4 separate regions of the Homo sapiens genome follow, and regions 2, 3 and 4 are each linked to region 1. Evidence: fine-mapped expression QTL. A gene starts in region 1. Each other region holds a variant in brackets. All regions are shown on one strand. Distances are from middle to middle. Region 1 holds the start of FOLR3 (folate receptor gamma). Region 2 overlaps FOLR1-AS1 (FOLR1 antisense RNA 1). Region 3 has its middle 61 kb from the start of LINC01537. Region 4 holds the start of LAMTOR1 (late endosomal/lysosomal adaptor, MAPK and MTOR activator 1).

What was found.
Region 2: its variant is fine-mapped to the expression of FOLR3 in whole blood (INTERVAL, PIP above 0.99).
Region 3: its variant is fine-mapped to the expression of FOLR3 in whole blood (INTERVAL, PIP 0.95).
Region 4: its variant is fine-mapped to the expression of FOLR3 in whole blood (INTERVAL, PIP 0.94).

Annotation. Positions count from the first base shown.
Region 1 is chr11:72,132,985-72,138,183 of GRCh38, reverse strand. FOLR3 (folate receptor gamma) reads right to left here and starts at 2,459. Exons shown (of 5, transcript NM_000804.4): 1 at 2,416-2,459; 2 at 2,064-2,237. The coding sequence starts at 2,231.
Region 2 is chr11:72,159,239-72,164,437 of GRCh38, reverse strand. It overlaps FOLR1-AS1 (FOLR1 antisense RNA 1), which reads left to right. Exons shown (of 3, transcript NR_199595.1): 3 at 1,059-1,116. It also overlaps the pseudogene FOLR1P1. Among named protein-coding and RNA genes, the nearest start is that of FOLR3, 26 kb to the right of the region's middle. The variant C/T (reference allele first, on the strand shown) is at 2,031.
Region 3 is chr11:72,507,493-72,512,691 of GRCh38, reverse strand. No RefSeq gene overlaps it. Among named protein-coding and RNA genes, the nearest start is that of LINC01537, 61 kb to the left of the region's middle. The variant C/G (reference allele first, on the strand shown) is at 2,052.
Region 4 is chr11:72,098,548-72,103,547 of GRCh38, reverse strand. All of the region lies in intron 5 of LRTOMT (leucine rich transmembrane and O-methyltransferase domain containing), which reads right to left. It overlaps LAMTOR1 (late endosomal/lysosomal adaptor, MAPK and MTOR activator 1), which reads left to right and starts at 251. Exons shown (of 5, transcript NM_017907.3): 1 at 251-365; 2 at 4,292-4,437; 3 at 4,690-4,767. The coding sequence starts at 324. RefSeq lists a silencer at 96-365 and an enhancer at 466-545. The variant C/T (reference allele first, on the strand shown) is at 2,002.

The DNA of each region.
Region 1 (5,199 bases):
TGTTTGCCAGGCTGGTCTCGAACTCCTGACCTCAGGTGATCCACCCTCCTTGGCCTCCCAAAGTGTTGGGATTACAGGCGTGAGTCACCGCGTTCGGCCTATTTCATGTTATTCAGCTTATTTATATTATTCATTTTGCATCCAGCCAATATTAACTGAGTGCTGATTATACATCAGGCACTGTGCTAGGTCCTAGGAACACCACAGTGAAGAAAACAAATAACACCTCTACCCTCAGGGAGGGTATGGTTTTAGTGGGTGGGTGGGCTGTGTGTAGAAGGGAGACAAAGAACACTCTAGGCATAGAAAACCATAGGTGCAAAGTCCCTGAGGCTTTTGCGCTTTATCCTCTCAACAACCCAGTACGAATCCTTACCCCCATTTTTACAGAGTTTAAGTAAGCTACACCCATGGTAAACAGTGAGGTTAAGATTTAAGGAGGCGGGCGGATCACCTGAGGTTAGAAGTTCGAGACCAGCCTGACCAACACAGAGAAACCCTGTCTCTACTAAAAATACCAAAAAATTAGCCAGGCACAGTGGTAGGCGCCTGTAATCCCAGCTACTCAGGAGGCAGAGGCAGGAGAATCACTTGAACCCAGGAGGCAGAGGTTGCAGTGAGCCAAGATCATGCCATTGCATTCCAGCCTGGGCAACAAGAGCGAAACTCTGCCTCAAATTAAAAAAAAAAAAAATTATAACTGAGGACAGGGAGGAGAGGAACCTGGCCCAGGTTGTGGGGGAGGGTGGAGGTCAAGGGGCTGGTCTGGCTCTCCCAGGGTCTGGAGGTCCAGGTGGGGAGACTCTAGATAGATCCTGAGAGTGGTGGAGAACGAAGGAGCTATAGCCTGCACGTGGGTCTGAACCTAGACTTGACTAAATGTGGAAAAGGCAATCCTAGAAAGGTAAATACAAGGCAGGTAAGACAAGCAGAAATGGTGGAGTTTTTTCTTGGGAAGTCACTCTAGGCCAGGACTCAGAAAACCTGAGAAATCATGAATCAATTGCATAAAATTTCTGGGCTGAACCCTTGCACCTAGGGTCAAGTGATGGCAGAGGCGTGACAGGCCTGAGCACCCAGGAGAAACAATAGGGAAATCCATGGGAGGGGAGCCAGACCTACCCACCTCCCACACCCTGGCCCACGCCCAGTGCCGGCTGACACAGAACATGCTTCCCTGCCAGCCCGACTTCACACTTGCTTTTCCTTGGATGTTCCAACTCTTGGTCTTCCTGCAAGACCCCTTGCACATCATGGGTCTTAGGGTTTGGCAGACATGGGTCCTGCCTGTCAGGGTCAAGGGTTGTTGCCTCCAAAAGAGTTACTGAGTACAATGAGAAGAACTCCCTTGCTATAGTAAGGGCTCAACAAATATCATCACTCTCATATAGCTCATGGCCCTGAGAATGATAGTCATCTGTCTCTCTCAAAGGTCTACATCCACACCATTTCCTGGCAAGGAGGATGTGCTCTAGAAGGTTCTGAAAAGCAAATGAAGTGGTGGGCACAGAGTTTCCATTTCAGTTTTGGAGAATGAAAGAGGTCAGGAGATGGATGGTGGTGATGGTTGCACAACCACATGAGCATACCTAATGCCACTGAACCGTACAGTTAAAAATGGCTAAAGTGGAAAATGTATGTTATGTATTTGTTTTTTTTTTTTAACCCCGATTTAAAAATAAGCAAATGGAATGTTGGGAGTGACTCAGATGTCATGGGGCTTCCAGGCTGTCCTGTCTTCGCTTTAACCCACAGATTGTGTCCACGCCACAGTCTCTCCCTAGGCACATCCCCAGCCCTCTGGGAATGTGAAACCTTGTAGGGAGCAGGCCAGGAGACCAGAGGAATGAAATACAAGCACACTCCTGAGCCTGGAGTTCAAATTGGAGCTCATATTCCCCAAGCTGCCTCAGTGGCCTTACCTGTGGCATGGTGGCCCTGGCCGCCCCTCCCCTTCCTTGTCAGCAGCGGCACCCTTGGTTCTGACCACACTGGACCTGCCATTGCTCGTGCCATCACCCTCTGACCTGTGTGCATGCTGTCCTACACCAGGCTGCCCTCACCTGGCCATACAGCTCGTCCTCGGGGCTGGGCTGTGTCTTGTGGTGCTTGGCGTTCATGCAGACATTGAGCAGGTCCGTCCTGGCCCGCGCACTCCTGGGCTGGGCACTCCCCGCAGCAGTCACCAAAGCCAGAAGCAGCAGCTGCATCATCTGCCAGGCCATGTCCATCTATTCCTGCCAGAGAGCCACAGTCAGAGGTAGACAAGGCCTGAGACAGGGGCAACAGCCATGTGATTGTGTACTCTCTCCCTCCCAGGCCCAGATCTCTGCTGTCCCCACCCTGCATCCCCTACAGGGCAGCTGAGCCAAGAAATGCGCTGCGTGTAGAGGTGAGAGGGAGCCCTTCCCCTACCTGGAGGCAGGACCTCCACCAACAGCGCTGTAGGTCCAGGCTCTGACACCAGCTTGCTCTGTGACCTTGTAGGGAGCCACCGCCCTTGTGGACTTCCCCTCTTGGATTTCTCCAGTGTTTTATGCAATTCTTTTCAAATTTGCACAAGGAGGAACCACAGGTGGTGGCCTGCTGATGCAGGAGTGAGACTCTAGACAGCCTCAGGCTTCTGCTTCCTCAGCCTGTCCTCCTACCCCATGGCAGCTGAGGTTTAGATGCCCAGGGAAGCTGAGATGGGGACAGCAAGGGCCATGGAGCTGTCAGCTATTGTTCATGGTCCCGGAGCAGATGCTGCGGGAGGCAAGGAGGTGGGGGCAATCACACCTCACCCTTCACCCCTTCTGGGTCTTGGGAAATTACCTAGGCAGAGGCAGGCTCAGAGGTTGGGGGAGGCCAACAGGTCAGCGGCAAACGGAGGAGGGGGCTGAGCGAGAACAGTGGGCGCTATCTCGCCTCCCACCTCTCATCCCCACTTTTCCCTCTGTCCTGTTGCAGGGCCTTACCTCCATTCTCAGCCCACCTGGGAAGGTGGAGTCTCTCCCACCTCCCCACCTACTTTATAACCCCATCCTGCCTGCTTGGTTAGACCCTCTGTTCGGGAAGGTGCACAAGGCTTTGTCTAGGAGACAGCTCAATTGTCTTTCAATAAGGACCCAGTTAAATTATGGTACATCTACCCAGTGGAATTTAATGTGGTAACAAAGAAAGAGAAAGCTCCTGATGTACAAATATGGAAAAATCTTCAAGTGCATTGTTAAGTGGAAAAAGAAAGGTGCAGAAAAATGCTATGTAAAAAATAATAATAATAAATTCTCTGTAAAAAAGGAGTAAGAATGTCTGTGTTGACTGGGCGTGGTGGCTCACGCCTGTAATCCCAGCACTGTGGGAGGCCGAGGCAGGCGGATCACTTGAGGTCAGGAGTTCGACATCAGCCTGGTCAATATGATAAAACCCCATCTGTACTAAAAATACAAAAATTAGCTGGGTGTGGTGGCACATGCCTGTAATCCCAGCTACTCAGGAGGCTGAGACAGGAGAATCACTTGAACCCGGGAGGAGTTTGCAGTGAGCCAAGATCACGCCACTGCACTCCAGCCTGGATAACAGAACGTGACTCTGTCATTAAAAAAGAAAAGAATATCTGTGTTTGCAGGTGAAAATTCTGTGGCAAGGTATGAAAAGAAATTAATAACATGGTCACCTGGCAGTAGAGAACAGGATTAGGCTTGAGACTTTTCTCTGTAAACCTTTCCACATTGTTTTGATTTTTGGACCATGTGACTATAAATCTTATTTAAATACATATAGGTATGTGTGTATACATACATAAATATACCAAATATGAAGTGAAAATACTAAGACACAGAATGACCTCTCTGACTTGATAATATGTATGTAAATTTTGATAACACTAGAATGTATACAACAGTACCTTTAAGTTAAGGATACTACACATGTGCTTGCAAAAGTATGAACATGAAGCCACCAAGAGTTCTGGTCCCTGGACATACATCCAGTAAATTCGATGCAGTTACACCATATATATCCCATTTCTGTGCACAAATGGTAGCATACTGTTCTGTACTTTGCTTTTTTGGGTAGTTTCACTATAAATTTATTCTTTTGACAAAAAAACAAAAACCTCATGAACTCAAGTTATCCACAGTTGCACACTTGAGTATTACTGTACATCTGATAACATAACTAAAATTATTTCTTTATGCCTCGTAGGGTCTAAACTTAAAACTATTTCATTAGCCGATATAAAAAAGTTAGTGGGCTGGGTGTGGTGGCTTACACCTGTAATCCCAGCGTTTTGGGAGGTTGAGGTGGATGGATCACTTGATCCCAGGAGTTTGAGACCACTTGGGCAACATAGGAAAACTTCATCTGCACACAAAAATAGAAAAATTAGCCACGTATGGTGGTGCGAGCTTGTAGTTTCAGCCATTTGGGAGGGTGAGCTGGGAGGATTGCTTGAGCCCTGGAGGTCGAGGCTGCAGTGAGCTGTGATGGCACCACTGTACTGTCAGAGTGAGACCCTGTCTCAGCAAAAAAAGAAGAAGGAAAAGGAGAAGGAGAAGAAGAAGAAAGAAGAAGAAGAAGAAGAAGAGGAAGAAGAAGAAGAAGAAGAAGAAGAAGAAGAAGAAGAAGAAGAAGAAGGAGAAGAAGAAGAAGAAGAAATAAGGAAACAAAGAAAGTTAGGAAAGAGAACTTCATGTTTTCAAGTTAAAAGTGCCTAATGCTTGGTTTGTATTTCTCCAACACTCTTGGAGGCAGTAGAACTGCTACTAACCTGGGAAGACGACCGGCACTGCCCCTGTGTATTGCTTATGTAGTGTGAAGTGATGTTTTCCCATTATGATGTTGGGAACATTTCCAATACTGTCATCATTTACTCAGCTAGTAGAGAGCCTCTCCTGAGGCAGAGCCTGTGTTTTCAGTCTGACCTCAGTATCTGGTCCTGCTACAGGTGAGTCTGAGGTGACAAGACCAGTGTCTAGTTATGAAGCCCTTGCCTCCCCAGGGCTCCATTATGGATGAGTCCTGCACCATAGTCAGCAGCCCTCTGCCCTCCCTCCATTGCACCCACCTATGACTCTTCTCTTCTTTTCAATGCCCTCCCCCAACAACCTCTGCCTGTGACTTTGAATGTGTTGTGGGGGTCTTTGCAGAAGAATCGCCCACCTGAGTTTTGGCCAAATTCCTGACTCACAACATCTTGGAATATAATAAAATAGTTAC
Region 2 (5,199 bases), 26 kb before region 1:
TCCTATGTCTACTTCTTTCTACACAGACAGAGTAACAATCTGATCTCTCTTGCTTTTCCCCACAGCATAAATGAGGTCTAGGAAACTCCAAGACTACTGACTGTAGGGGGTATAGAAACATAGGTAAGAGCGGATAATTCCTATTCTCTCTTTTTTTTTCCCCGAGATGGAGTCTTACTCTGTTGCCCAGGCTGGAGTGCAGTGGTGTGATCTTGGCTCACTGCAACCTTTGCCTCCTGGGACCAAGTGATTCTCCTGCCTCAGCCTCCCGAGTAGCTGGGACTACAGGCATGCACCACCACACCCAGCTAAGTTTTGTATTTTTAGTAGAGACGGGGTTTCACCATGTTGGCCAGGCTGGTCTCAAACTCCTGAAATCATGATCTGCCCACCTCGGCCTCCCAAGGTGCTGGGTTGTACAGGCGTGAGCCACTGAGTCTGGCTGATAATTCCTATTCTCTAGGTACTCCCTGCTTCATGGGTGCAAGCTGCTGTGGCACCCATGGCAGCACCTGCCAAGGTCACCAGGACTTGGGTATGCAAGGACAGAAGAGGGAAAGAGGACGCTCTTCCTTCTCTCCCTCATGTACCCCTGGTATCTGCTAGAAAGAGATAGGAGACAGGGATGCCTGCTCCCCTCTTTCTAGATGGGTAGCCATTCATCTTCACTCTGTACCCCTTTTGAATGCATGCTGAACCCCTGGGACTCCTTTAAAAAGCACCTTTTTTTCCTTTCTTCTCCACTGTCTTCTCTTCACTAATAGGTAATTGTGTCTTTGTACTATAGGACACTCCCCTCAGATGCATCCTCCAAACTGGAAAGAGTTAATTTCCCAAACCTTCAGCTGGTTGGCTTAGGATTGGGCTCAGAGGAAGGGAACCCACAAGCATGACATGCTGGCAAAAGGGTAAAGTTTTTTTTACCAGTCGGGCTTTTGGTTTCCCTCTCCCTGTGCAAACTGGTAAAAGGCCTAGGGATTTTAAGCTGTCCTTACCCTCCCTTGTTTCGTTTTAACACATGTTTTCTAATAACCTGGTTTTTCTCCTCTTGCCTTCAGGCCATCAAACTCCAAATGGTCGTGCAACCGGAGCCTCGGAAGATGGCGCCTTCTGCCGGGAACCCTTAGATAGGCTTCTGAGGGAGCTCTGACTGCCGTTTCCCAAAACACCGCTCCCTGTTAGCAGGAAGCAGTTTAGATCGGTCTTCGTCCTCACCCCTATCCTTGTTCTAACAGTAGTTTGATGTACTTCTTGAGAGGGGGGAATGAGACAGCCAAGTGTAAAGGGGTCCCCAGAGAACCTCTGACAAACCCGCACACTGGGAGGAATGTGCACTGGGGTGGAGCCTCTGGAAGTTCGTGCTGAGGAGCCTGGCCCCTCCTCTTCCAGGGTGGAACCTGGGATTCAACCTGAGAGGTGGGAAGCGTGTACTAGCAGGACTCTCACTCTGCCGAGGGTCCCCGTTTCCCCGCTTTTTTTTTTTGCCCAATAAATTCCATTTTTCTCACCCTTCAAAGTGTCTGCAAGCCTAATATTTCATGGCCAGGTGACAAGGACCCTGTCTTTGGCTGAACTGAGGAGAAACTCCTACAACATTACCATCCAGCAATTCCTATTTTTTTTTTTTTTTTTTTTTGAGACAGGGTCTCACTCTATCAACCCAGGCTGGACTGCAGTGGCACAGTCATAGCCCACTGCAGCCTCTACCTCCTGAGCTAAAGAGATCCTCCCATCTCAGCTTCCTGCATAGCTAGGACTACAGGCGTGGACCACCACACTGGGCTAAATTTTTTGTATTTTTATGTAGAGACGGGGTTTCACCATGTTGCCCAAGCTGTTCTAGAATCCCTGGCTCAAGTGATCTACCTGCCTTGGCCTCCCAAAGTGCTGGAATTACAGGTATGAGCCACCATGCTTGGCTTCCAACCAATATTTTAAAGTTCATGATGGGAATGGAGTTTGTCTCAGATGATAGATTTTTATGGAGCCACATGCCAATTTCCTTAGAATACTTTCCCTCATGGATACAC[C/T]CCACAGAAACTCAGAATCATCCCCTCAATTCTTATCCCCCCTCATGCCCATTTACAATTAATCCCTGTTGTCACTTCCAGCCCCAGGCAACTACTAATCTACTTTCTGCCTCTATAAATTTGCCTTCCCTGCACATTTCATGTAAGTGAAATCATGCCACATGAAGCCTCTTAGGTCTGGCTTCTTTCACTTAACATAATGTTTTTGACGCTCATCCACGACATAGCATGTGTCATCACGTTTCATTGCTGCACAGTCTTCTATTGTATGGATTCACCACATTTTGTCTATCTACTCACCAGCTGCTAAAAATTTAGGTTATTGCCAGCTTGGGGCTATTATATATAATGATACATAATATGATATATCATATTTACATACATAAATGATACATCATATTTACATACATAAATATGATTATTATTAATATTCATATTTAAGTTTTGTTATGTTTGTTTTCGTTTCTCCTGAGTAGACACCTGGGAGTGGAATTTTGGGTTGTATGGCAGTTTTACATTTAACTTTTTGAGAAACTGCCACACTGTTTTCCGAAGGGCTGTACCATTTTACATCCCCACCAGCACTGTGTGAGGGTTCCCATTTCTCCACATCCTTGCCAATGCTTGTTATTGCCTATCATTATTATTATTGCCATTCTAGTAGGTATAAAACCGTCTATCACTATGGTTTTAGTTTCCATTTTTCTAATGATTAATAATGTTGAGCATCTTTTCGTGTAACTATTCATAATTTGTGTACCTTCTTTAATGACATATTTGTTCATTTCTTTTGCCCATTATTTGATTGGGTTGTCTGCCTTCTTGTTACTGAGTTGTAAGTGTTCTTTGTATTTTATGGATACAGATCCTTTATCAGATGTGTTTGCAAATATTTCCTTCCAGTCTGTTGCTTGTTTTTTAATTTTCTTAAGGGTGTCTTTTAAAGTGCAAGAGTTTTGAATTTTGTTAATATCCAATTATTAGCTTTTGCATTGATCAACTATGCTTTCGGTTCAAAAAAGAAATCAGTGGGCTGGCAGAGGTGTCTCACGCCTCTAATCCCAGCACTTTAGGAGGTCAAGGTGGGTGAATGAATCACTTGGGCGCAGCAGTTCAAGACCAGCTTGGGCAACATGGCAAAACCCCATCTCTACAAAAAAAATACAAAACATTTGCCCAGCATGGTGGCATGTGCCTGTAGTCCCAGCTACTTGGGAGGCTAAAGTTGAGGGATCAATTGAGCTCAGGAGGTCAAGACTGCAGTGAGCCATGACTGTGCCACTGCACTCCAGCCTGAGCAACAGAAAGAGACCCTGTCTCAAAAAATAAAAATAATAAATAGAAATAAATGAAGGGCGAAAAGGCATCAATTGGCCTTGTTTACAAGACTAGCCAGGGCGGTCATCAGTGGATTGCTCCACTTTTCAGGTTGATGTAGTTATTTGCATATGTATAGAGAGTTGGTCCTCCTTCTTACTAGGATCTAACCAAAAAATTAAATTTGTAACTATGACCATGCCAGAAACAGAAATCTACGAGAAAATAATGAAGTCTTTTTACTCATGATTAGGTCTGTTGCAAACCTTGTGATTCCCCTCTCCTTGCAAGTACATGATAGGATTATGTTTTCCTGGCTTTCTTGAATTTAGGCATGCTCATGACTTGATTTGGCCAATGAAATAAGTGATGGGTGGAAATTTGAAGAGCCTTATGGAATTTGCCAAGTTCCCTCTTCCTGTCTCATGGAAGATGGAGCCTCCATCAGCGTGGGTTCTTGAGTGAGAAGCAGAACCCCCTGGCTGCTAATGTAGTCCAGGAATGAGAAATAAACAGAATCCCCCTGATAACCCACATTCAGCATTGTAGCTTGAGCAAGAAATAAACATGACTTGTGGCCAGATGCAGTGACTCATGCCTGTAATCCCAGCATTTTGGGAGGATCACTCCAGCGCAGGAGTTTGAGAACAACCTGGGTAAAATAGTGAGACCCTGTCTCTACTATTACATATATAATACATGTTTTATATTATATGTATTAGCTGAATGTGGAGGCTCACACCTGTAGACCCAGCTACTCAGGAGGCTGAGGTAGGAGGATTGCTTGAGCCCAGTAGTTTGAGACCAGCCTGGACAACATTGCAAGATTTCCTCTCTACAAAAAATTGAAAAATTAGCCAGGTGTGGTGGCACATGCTTGTAGTCCCAAGTATTTGGGATGCTGAGGTGGGAGGATCACTTGAGCCCACGAGGCAGACGTTGCAGTGAGCTGAGATCATGCCACTCCATTCCAACCTGGGTGAGAGAGTGAGACCCTGTCTCAAAAAAAGAAAAATGCCTGGGCTTGGCTCTAAATTGGAGCTATAGTGAATAATAAAATCGAGAGCTACAAATGTCTCCTACCTTAGAAGAATACTTAAGTATCAGGCTAGTTCATAGCAAGCATCAGAGCTGGGAACTAGCCCAGTCTAACTGGCTTCAATCAATAAGAAATGGGAAACAAAACAGCCACATTCCCATTCATACCCAAATAATTCTCAAGATACATGTGTGGTGTCTGGTTTATTCAAAGTGGCTGTCAGAGACAAGACCATAGAAGAGGAACCAAATAGTTGGGAGCTGTGGGGCTAAACAGGGCAGGGATGTCCAAGTATCAGAAGGTAAAAGGAGGTCAGCTGAGCAGCCACAGCAGCATTAGGGCCAGGTTGAGCAGGAGAGGCCAGGCTGCCCAGGGCCCAGCCCCACTCAGAGCTGCAGCATAGAACCTTGCCACCTCCTCATTGGGGTTGCCCTGGGCCAGGTCGAACCACATCTGGATGCAGCGGCTGCTCCCTCGGTTGTAGTTGCTGACCCTGTAGGAGTGAGTCCAGATTTCACTGCACAGAGCAGTGGGTGTGAGAAAGTAGAGATGGAAAGGTAGTCAGGCAGCTGCCACCTGGCACTTGTTAGACCCTGTAGGGAAGAGGGAAGACCTTTAGCCACTGGGCCCCAAAGGGTCTCTGATTCTGCCAGCCCTACAACCCCAAAATGTCACACACCTGTTCCACACCCACACACCTTCACTTCCAAATCCCTCCTTTCCTGCCCACCCCAGCCCTCACCTGAGGTCCAGTTCCAGCCCTTGTGCCCATTGCTCTTGCAGGTGTAGGAGGTGCGACAATCTTCCCACCAT
Region 3 (5,199 bases), 370 kb before region 1:
GGAACTTGCAGTGAGCCGATATTGCACCACTGCACTCCAGCCTGGGCAACAGAGTGAGACTCTGTCAAAAATAAAATAAAATAAAATAAAATCATAAGATACAAAGAGAAACAGGAAGATATGACCACACACGAGGGAAAAGCAGACAGCAGAAACTATCTGTGAGAGCATACAGATGTTGAACTTAGCAGACAAAAATTTGAAAGCAACTGCTATAAATATGTTTAAAGAACTAAAGAAACCTTGTTTAAAGAAGTAAAGCATGAGAACAACGTCTCAGTTATAGAATTCAACAAAAAGATAAAGTTATTTTAAAAAACCAACTAGAGGCCAGGCGTGGTGGCTCATGCCTGTAATCCCAGCACTTTGGGAGGCTGAGGCAGGCAGATCAAGAGGTCAGGAGAGAGAGAGACCATCCTGGCTAACCCGGTGAAACCTCATCTCTACTAAAAATACAAAAAAAAATTAGCTGGACATGGTGGCGGGCACCTGTAGTCCCAGCTACTCAGGAGGCTGAGGCAGGAGAATGGCGTGAACCCAGGAGGCGGAGCTTGTAGCTTGTAGTGAGCCGAGATTGTGCTACTGCACTCCAGCCTGGGTGACAGAGTGAGACTCTGTCTAAAAAAAAAAAAAAAAAAAAACAGCTAGAAATTCTGGAGGTGAAAAATATAATAGCTGAAATAAAAATTTCTCTAGAGGGATTGAACAGTATATTTGTGCTAGCAGAAGAAAAGGTAAGTGAACTTAAAAACAGGTCTATAGAGATCATCCAAATGGAAGAACAGAAAGGAAAAACAATGAAGAAAAATGAACATTGCCTCAAAGACTTGTATGTTTTATGGACACATAAAACATACCAACAAATGTATAATAGGAGTCCCAGAAGGAGAAAGAGAGAGAAAAGATCAGAAAAAATATTTGAAGAAATCAATACTAAAAAAAAGTCCAAATTTGATGAAAAACATTAATCTACACATCCAATAAGGTCAGAGAATTCTAAGTAGGATAAACACAAAGAGACTGTCAACTAAAAATACCATAGTCAAACTATTGAAAGGCAAAAAGAATGTCTTGAAAGCAACAAGAGCAAAATGACTCATCACATATGAGTGAACCAGATTAAGATAAGCAGCTGATTTCTCATCAGAAACAATGGAGAGTTTGGAGCCAAGATGGCTGACTAAACACAGCCAGGAGAAGATCTCCCAACCAAGAGACTGGGACATCAGGAAGAATGGCACACTCCAAGCAGATCTTCAGAGGGAAGGCTTTGAGAATGGATGGAAGTAGGACTCAGACACTGAGCTGAAGGGGGATGATGCTGGGAACCCTGTATGGGGCTGTTGTGCACTGGGACTCATTCCTGAGTGACTCCTGGAGAAGAGATGAATTGAACAGTTGAGGAGTGGCCCATTCTTGCCACAGACCTCCAGAATCCTAGCAGCAGGAGACCCCATGACCCCCATGGACACTTAAGCTGGCAGCAAGAGCTACTTAGAGAGGCAGTTAGGGCAGGACTCCAGCCTGTGTGGAGCCAACAGTGTTTGATGTGGGAACATTTGCAGTGGAGCATGGCCAGGGATTCTCATCCCCCAAGGCTCACCATGCTCCTTCAGGAGACTTTAGCCTTAGGGTGACTGTCAGAACTGGACAGAGCAGGGCAGTCTTGCCTGTGGGACAGGGCCAATTTTATCTGAGCACCCCTCTGTCTGCTGGCGTCGCCTGGGGACCCAGCCTGCCCATTCTCACTTGCAGCACAACTTTGGATGCCCAACTGCTATATCCAGGGAACCTCATCATAACTTCTTCATTGTCAGACCACACCTCGCTGTTGGAGAGCTCCAGCAGATGGGCCCCTGCCAATGCACATCAGTCCACACACAGTCTCCCTCCACCATTGACTCCCCCTGCCACTTTGCCAGCACACATTTGTCTACAGCCCCTGCTCCACCACTTTGCCAGCAGGCATGCATAGGTGGACCTCACCCCACTCCACTGTCAGTGAATGTGCGCATGCACCCCACCATGTCACCACTGCCAACACTAGTGCA[C/G]CCTACCACCCCTCCCTCCACTAACACATGGGCACCCTGCTGTACCACCACTGCTGGCACAAATGCACACACAGACACCAGCAATCCCACCCCTACCAGTGTCCCATCCCCACCATGCTGCACCCACTACTGGTGTAAGCACATGCAGGAACACTGCCACCCTGCTCCAGCTAATGCCCTGCCTCAGACAATGCACGTGTACCCCCACCACACTGCCACAGTTACTGGCACATGCAGGGGAGCATGGATCCCGCTGCCACTGCCCCAACAAAGTTCTTTAGCTGGCACCACTCATTGGAGTGTTGTGGCCAGTGGATCAGGAGCACTGTGGCCCCTTCAGTACAGCAGGTTCCTAACCTCAAGAGGCCAGAGAATAAAGCCAAGAGCCCAGTACCAGCCTCCCAGAGCATGCTTCCCAGGACTACTGAGCTGAGACTGGGCCTCCGAAAATCTTTCAGAAATGAAGCCAGTCAACTAAACCCACTTTATACCACAATCAAACCCCCAAGGGGATCAAAGAAGATAAAAACAAAAAATTCTATCCAAAGGACAGCAACTTCAAAGATTGAAGGAATATCAGCCCACATAAACGAGAAAGAACCAGTGCAAGAACTCTGGCAAGTCAAAAAGCCAAAATGTCCTCTTACCTCCAAATAATGGCACTACTTCCCCAGGAATGGTTCTTAATTAGGCTGAAATGACAGATACAGAATTCAGAACATGGATAGGAATGAAGATCATTGAGATTCAGGAGAAAGTCAGAACCCAATCCAAGGAATCTAAGGAATATAATAAAACAACACAGGAACTGAAAGATGAAATGGCCATTTGAAGAAAGAATCAAACTGATATGATTGAGCTGAAAACCTTACTTCAAGAATTTCATAATTACAAATATTGATAGCAGAATAAACCAAGCTGAGGAAAGAATCTCAGAGCTTGAAGGCCAGTCCTCCAATGTAACTCAGTCAGACAAAAGTGAAGAAATAAAAAAGAATGAACAAAATCTCTGAGAAAGATGGTATTATGTAAAGAGACCAAATCTATGACTCATTGGCATCCCTGAAAGAGAGGGAGAAAAAGCAAACAACTTGGAAAACATATCTGAAGATATCATTCTTGAAAATCTTTCCAACCTCGCTACAGAGGCCAACAGTCAAATTCAGGAAATGCAGAGAACCCCTGTGAGGTACTGTATAAGATGACCATCCCTAAGACACATAGTCATCAGATTCTCCAAAGTTGAAATGAAAGAAAAAATGTTTAAGGCAGCTAGAGAGAAAGGGCAGGTCATCAACAAAGGGAACCTCATCAGGCTAACAGTGAACCTGTCAGTAGAAACTCTACAAGCCAGAAGAGATTGGTGGCCTATATTCAGCATTCTTTTATATATTTATTTATTTTTTGAGATGGAGTCTTGCATTGTTGCCCAGGCTGGAGTGCAGTGGTGTAATCTCGGCTCACTGCAAGCTCTGCCTGCTGGGTTCACACCATTCTCCTGCCTCAGCCTCCCAAGTAGCTGGGACTACAGGCGCCTGCCACCACACCCGGCTAATTTTTTGTATTTTTAGTGGAGACGGATTTCACCATGCTAGCCAGGATGGTCTCGATCTCCTGACGTCATGATCTGCCCACCTCGGCCTCCCAAAGTGCTGGGATTACAGGCATGAGCCATCGTGCCCGGCCTATTCAGCATTCTTAAAGAAAAGAAATTCCAACCAAGAATTTCATATCCAGCTAATGTAGTTTGGATATTTGTCCCTGCCCAAATCTCATGTTGAATTGTAATCCCCAATGCTGTAAGTGGGGCCTGGTGGGAGGGGTTTTGGTCATGGGGGTGGATCCCTCACGGCTTGGTGGTGTCTTTGCAATAGTGAGTTCTTGCCAAGATCTGGCCATTTAAAAGTGGACCTCCCCCTACACTCTCACTTGTTCCTGCTTTCACCATGTGACCTGCCTGTTCCCCTTTCACCTTCCACCGTGATTGAATGCTCCTCAACAGTTCAACAGAGCCAAGCAGATACCAGCACCATCCTTTCTGTAAAACCTGCAGAACTATGAGCCAATGAAACCTCTTTTCTTTATAAGTGACCCAGTCTCAGGTATTTCTTTATAGCAATGCAAGAATGGCCTAATACAGAAAATTGTTACTGAGGAGTGAGGCCTTGCTATAAAGATACCTGAAAACATGGAAGCAGCTTTGGAAATGGGTAACAGGCAGAGGTTGGAAGAGTTTGGAGGGCTCAGAAAAAGAGAGGAAGACCAAGGGAAGTCCAGAACTTCTTAGAGACTGGTTAAATGATTGTGACCAAAATGCTGATAGTGAGACAGCCAGGTGGGAGGGAGTCCCTGGAGAAACTCCAACCAGCCTGCCCACTGAGGTGGAGCCTCAGGAAGTTCATGACCTTTGCAGCAGGGAGGAGCCTGGTGCCTCCTCTTCCTGTGTGGAACCTGGGATTCAATCACCCGGGCAGGAAGCACTCTAGTGGAGGGACTCTGGCCTAGTGAGAGTCCCTGTTTCCCCCTTTTCTTCCTTTTAACCCAGTAAAACCCTGCTTCACTCACCCTTCAAATCATCTACGAGCCTAAATTTTTGTGGCTGTGGGATGGACAAGGACCCCATCTTTCACTCAATTAAGGAAAAGTCTTACAACAATAGTAATATGGATGATGAAGTCCAGGCTTATGAGGTCTCAGATGGAAATGAGAAACGTATTGGGAACTGGAGCAAAGGTCATGTGTGTTATGCCTTAGCAAAAAACTTGTCTCCATTTTGTCCATGTCCTAAGGATCTGTGGAAGTTTAAACTAAAGAGTGATGATTTAGGGCAAGGGTATCCAATCTTTTGGCTTCCCTGGGCCACAGTGGAAGAAGAATTGTTCTTGGACCATACATAAAATACACTAACACTAACGATAGCTGATGAGCTAGAAAAAAAAAATCACAAAAAACTCACAATGTTTTAAGAAAGTTTATGAATTTGTATTGGGCTTCACTCAAAGTCATTCTGGGTCACATGCGGCCAGCAGGCTGCAGGTTGGACAAACTTGATTTAGGGTATTTGGCAGAAGAAATTTCTAAGCAGCAAAGTGTTCAAGATGTGGCCTGGCTGCTTTGAACAACCTACACTCAGATTTGAGAGAAAAGA
Region 4 (5,000 bases), 35 kb after region 1:
ATAACACAATTCACGATGGCCACTACTGCCAGTTTAGAGACTGGAAAGATGAAGTCATGTGATCCGCCCCGCCCTTTCCCCGCATCACGTGCTTGCGTGTACGGTTACGCCTTCCCATTGGTTGACAACGATCACGCGCTAGCGGGCGGGACCGGAAGCCGGGGTATTGACTGAGGCGGCCAAGCGGCTCCGGGACAGGGGGTACGGGGGGTGGGGGCGGGTGGTTGCCTGCGGGAGGCCGCCGCGGGTCATGTGACCGGAAGGGCTCCTCACGGACGCCGTCCCTCCTCGGCGCGGCCTGAGCGCCCGGCCCGACCCCGGCCATGGGGTGCTGCTACAGCAGCGAGAACGAGGACTCGGACCAGGTGCGGCCGCGGCAGGCGGGGCTCGGGAATGAGGGCTAAGACACTGGGGCATGGGGCCCAGAAAGAAACCTGCGGAGGACGGGCAGCCGGACTGCAGGGCTCACTGAATACGGAGGCCTGGAGGGGACAGATTACAGAGGAGACGCCAAGCCGGGCTCCTACCCCTGTTAAAGCCCCAGATTTCTACACAGTCCCCGCCTCGGGGTGTGCAGGCAGCCGCCTGTCCGGCTCGCTCCCACCACTTCCGTTTGCTCCTACCTTCAAAACTTTTCAGATTCAAGGATCCTCAGTCTAGGTCCCCGGGAAACACTCCCTTCCCCAGCTTCCTGTGTCTTCTGTGTATTAGTGGGCTTTGCGAATCCATTTTAGGGGTGGGTAAGCTGAGGCCCTGAGTTAGTCTGTCCTGAGATGAATCAGGAATTCGTGTATCGTCTTAGTCCCTGGGGTTGCAGAAGGAAGGTCGCTGCTAGTCTAGGGCCAGGGGACGACTCTGGAAGTTGGTGGCCTTTGAATTGGCCAATGAAGGATTTAATCGATACAGTGAGGACATCGGGACATGTGGGAAATTGTCTGGGAAGCAACAAAGAGGATTTAGCTTTGGCTAGATTGTGGGAAAAGAGAAATGGAGCGGGAAGTTCATTTGGTTCTGAGTTTGGCTTGCCTCAGTGCAGTCTGCCTGGGGCCTGAGGGTTCCTTTAGCTGGAGACATGCCTATTCTGAGAATTTGGCTGTAGATCTGATACCTTTGGAGAAAGGGTTAGGCTGGGGAGACCTGTACAGTTTTAAATTCTCCCTCTTCCTCTTAGTGCATTCTCACTTCTCCCCACACTCTAATCCCTGCCCTGCCTGGCCTGACATTCAAGGATGAAGTCTCAAGTTGCTGTCTACTCTCCTTTTTTGATCGTCTCTAAGCCCGGATTCTACATTTGAACATATAGTAGACCTGAGAGAGTAGAAAGGTTTCAGGTAGCTCACGGTCTAATGGGGAAGATGGTCACAAAAATAGATTATATCACTGGTACTTGGGAAGTAGTTCGTTCTTCAGTGAACGTATTTTGGATTAAGGGCTTAAGCCTAGGAAAATGTCGTTTGTATGGGAAGCAAGGGTGGCTTCTGGTTCTCAATTCTCCATACACCCAATGAACACATATTTCCTTTGCCCTGTGTTAGGCATGTGTTGTGCCTAATACCTCTCACTTCACTTCCACCTTTTTGAGAAAGAGACAACAATAACCCTGCCTACTGGGAGAGCTGTAGCCTAGTGGGAAATTGTCCCTTAAAGCATAATATGGACTCTTGCAGGGAATGAGTCAAGAAGGATTAATGCCGTATGAGAAAGGATACAAGCTTCTACTTGGAAGGGAGAGCTGGGCCTGCTGCTCTCCTGAATCTCTACCTTCTCCTTGGGGGGCTCTCATTTCTGTTCCTAACACCCAGAGAAGGTGCTTAATCACTGCTGGGTGATTTGAGGCCTCATGTAGCAAGGGCCATAACCATCCACCATCCCACAGTCCCTCTTTGAGTTCTTGGGCAGGCCCCTCTCCGACTCTCATCTCTGTCTCTTTATCATAATAAAAAATATACAACACGTTACAGTTTACAAAGGGCCTTCACAGTTATCTAATTTGACTCTTGC[C/T]AGACATCCGTCATATTAGTGTGGGTTATGTCTATTGAAAGGTGAGGAAGAAGTTCAGAGAAGCTAAGTGATTTGGCCAAGCTGAGAAGTGCTAGTGCCCAGGTGTTCTGACGCTAGGCCATGTACTTTATCCATGGGGCCAAGCTGTCTCAGCCATGCCCCTAGACCAGGTGGCCAGTCACGGGCAGGCTGCTATGTCTGTGCTAAGGTAGACAGTGAAACCCTGCCTCTTGGGTTACACTAATGCAGAGACAAACCTTGATGTGACAAACCTAACCCATGCTCCACTCGCACTTTGGGAGTGGGGTGATGTTTGTCTGCTCTGAAGTAGGTAGCATGGCCTCTTCTTTAAGTCTGGGTTTCAAGAAAATAACCTTGTTGTTCACTTGATCTTAGCTGAAGGCTGAGAAGTGATCAGCCAACCTTCTTCTTGAAGAACCCCTGATAGGGAAGAGACTACCCTGTCCTGCAGGAAGATCTGTCTGAAGTGGAGCTGGGAGGACAGACACATAGGAAGCTAACTTGGGCCTCATTATGGAGCCAGCTTTCCTTAGAAATACATAGTTTTATCTTTGGCAAACATTTTGTCTTTTTAGCTCTTTAATACTGAGCCTATGTATTTAGGGAGGAAGGGTGTCTGGGAGTTTATAGAGGTGATGGGGCAAAGCCCACAGCTTCTGTCTCTTGCTGTTGGGAACTGGATCAAATTGCCTGAGGACACTTGGGCAACCTAGCCTTGAGAAAGAAGAGTAAGGTGAAAAGGCTGGGCCTCCCTAAGCAGGGCAGGAGGAAGTAGCCCTCTACAAGGAGAGTTGTGGAGTTGTGGGCAGGGGAGCTGCGGCCTGCAGCAGGAAAGACTGAGGAACTGAGATAGGCCTGGAGGGGAGCATTGAGGAGTCTGGCACTGAAGGTTGGTGAGTCAGCATTAGCCAGGATGTCCCCCTGGGCCCATCCTTGGCTTTGTTCAGGGCACTCTTGCTCTTTATGGGTTGGATAGATACCCAGCAGGTCTGTTTTTCTCATTTACTGCTGATACAGCAAGCAAGGATTTGCAGCTGATGGTCTCAAGGCAGGGTCAAATCCAGAAATATTACAGTAGATAGAACAGGGGACTGAAAGAGGACAAGGAGGAAGACCAAACCAATGAGGAAGCTTGGTTTGGTCTTACATTAGTTCAGGGGTTGTGATTATCAGCACAGGCCAGCAGGAACAGGGCTGCTGAAAATTTACATGGGCTACTCAGGTGGTTTAGCAAGGGAGGGAACAGCGCCATTGTTGTTTGTTTTGAGATGGGGTCTTGCTCTCTTGCCCAGACTGGAGTACAGTGGCACAGTCCTAGCTCACTGCAGCCTCAAACCCTGGGTTCATACAGTCGTTGCACTTCAGCCTCCCAAGTAGGTGGGACTGCAGGGCTCACACTACCAAGTCCAGCTAATTTTTTTTTTTTGCAAAGACGAGGTCTTGCTTTGTTGCCCAGGCTGGTCTCAAACTCCTGGACTCAAGCAATCCTTCTGCCTTGGGCTCCCAAAGTGTTGGGATTACTGGTGTGAATCACCATACATGGCTACAGCTGTACTGCTCAGATCAGGATACACCATGTACACTCAGTTTGGTTCTGGGAGTCACGTACAAAAAGAGCACCAGAGCACAGGAGGGTGAACACCTTCGAAGGGACCTGCCTTCAAGAAGGGAACACACTTGTACTGTGTGACCCAGAGCTGGGCTGGGATTCCTGCCCTGACATAATTTGAGAAATGGCCATGGAGAGGTTGGGCTTGCTTTCTCTTGGGGCCTAGGGCTTTGTCTGGACTCGCCAGGGCTTCCATCTTGGAAGCGAACAGCTTTGCTGGGGAAGGCCTGGTCCTAGGGGATGAGGAAGGCTGTTCTTGGGCTCTTGACTTGCACTGATTTCCCCTTTAGATCCCAGTGCTTGCTATGTCTCAGCTCCACTGTCTTCCAGCCTCTAGTATCCTTTCTTTGCCAGGTCCTAGAATGTTTTTCAAGCTCCAGGGCTGTTGCTGACTACCTGCTTTGTGCCTCTGTCCATTTTTTCAGGGCCTCTAGGACTGCCTGGTTCCACTCTCATTTATCCTAGAACACCAACTCAGTTGAGCTCCCAAGGATAGGCAGGAACTGAGTCTTATCTGGCATTCCATAAAGCTGGGCACTTTAGATATTCCTTATAGAAACATTTTTGGTGTTTAAGGTCAGAGCTGGGCTAAGGGTAGCACCCGTGAAAGGCAGGATCTACGGGTCCTGGGGCTGACTTCTCTCCCATGACCACTTCTAGGACCGAGAGGAGCGGAAGCTGCTGCTGGACCCTAGCAGCCCCCCTACCAAAGCTCTCAATGGAGCCGAGCCCAACTACCACAGCCTGCCTTCCGCTCGCACTGATGAGCAGGCCCTGCTCTCTTCCATCCTTGCCAAGACAGCCAGGTAAGTGTCAGAGGACCAGGCCTGGGTCAGAGCTCCTCTATCCATATTAAAGGCTAGGATAGAAGGAGCCAGGCTCAGGACATGGGGGATGGGACAAGGTCACTGGGGAGAGGTGCCTCCATGTCCAGCCCTGCTCCAGTAGGCAGGAGGGAAACTGGTGTCAGATAGCCCTGGAGTTGGTACCTGGCACTGAGTCCTGTTTGTCCTTCTCGGAAGCACCTGTCATGTCATCTCTGTCTCCTCTCCCCATAGCAACATCATTGATGTGTCTGCTGCAGACTCACAGGGCATGGAGCAGCATGAGTACATGGACCGTGCCAGGCAGTACAGGTGAGCACCTGGCCAGCGTGGGTCCCTCAGGCTACTTGGGCTCCCACCCTCCATCACTGTTCCAGCTTTGGAGCCTGGCCCCTAGTCCAAGCTTCTCATTTGGTGCAGCCCTGGAGACTGACCACAGATCACTTGGGTGCTTCAGTAGTTATTCATGTCAGCCCTGTTTACCCTGTGACACTCTTGAGGGCGCTGAGGCCAAGGGAGATGGGCCTAGATTGAGTCTGTGATGA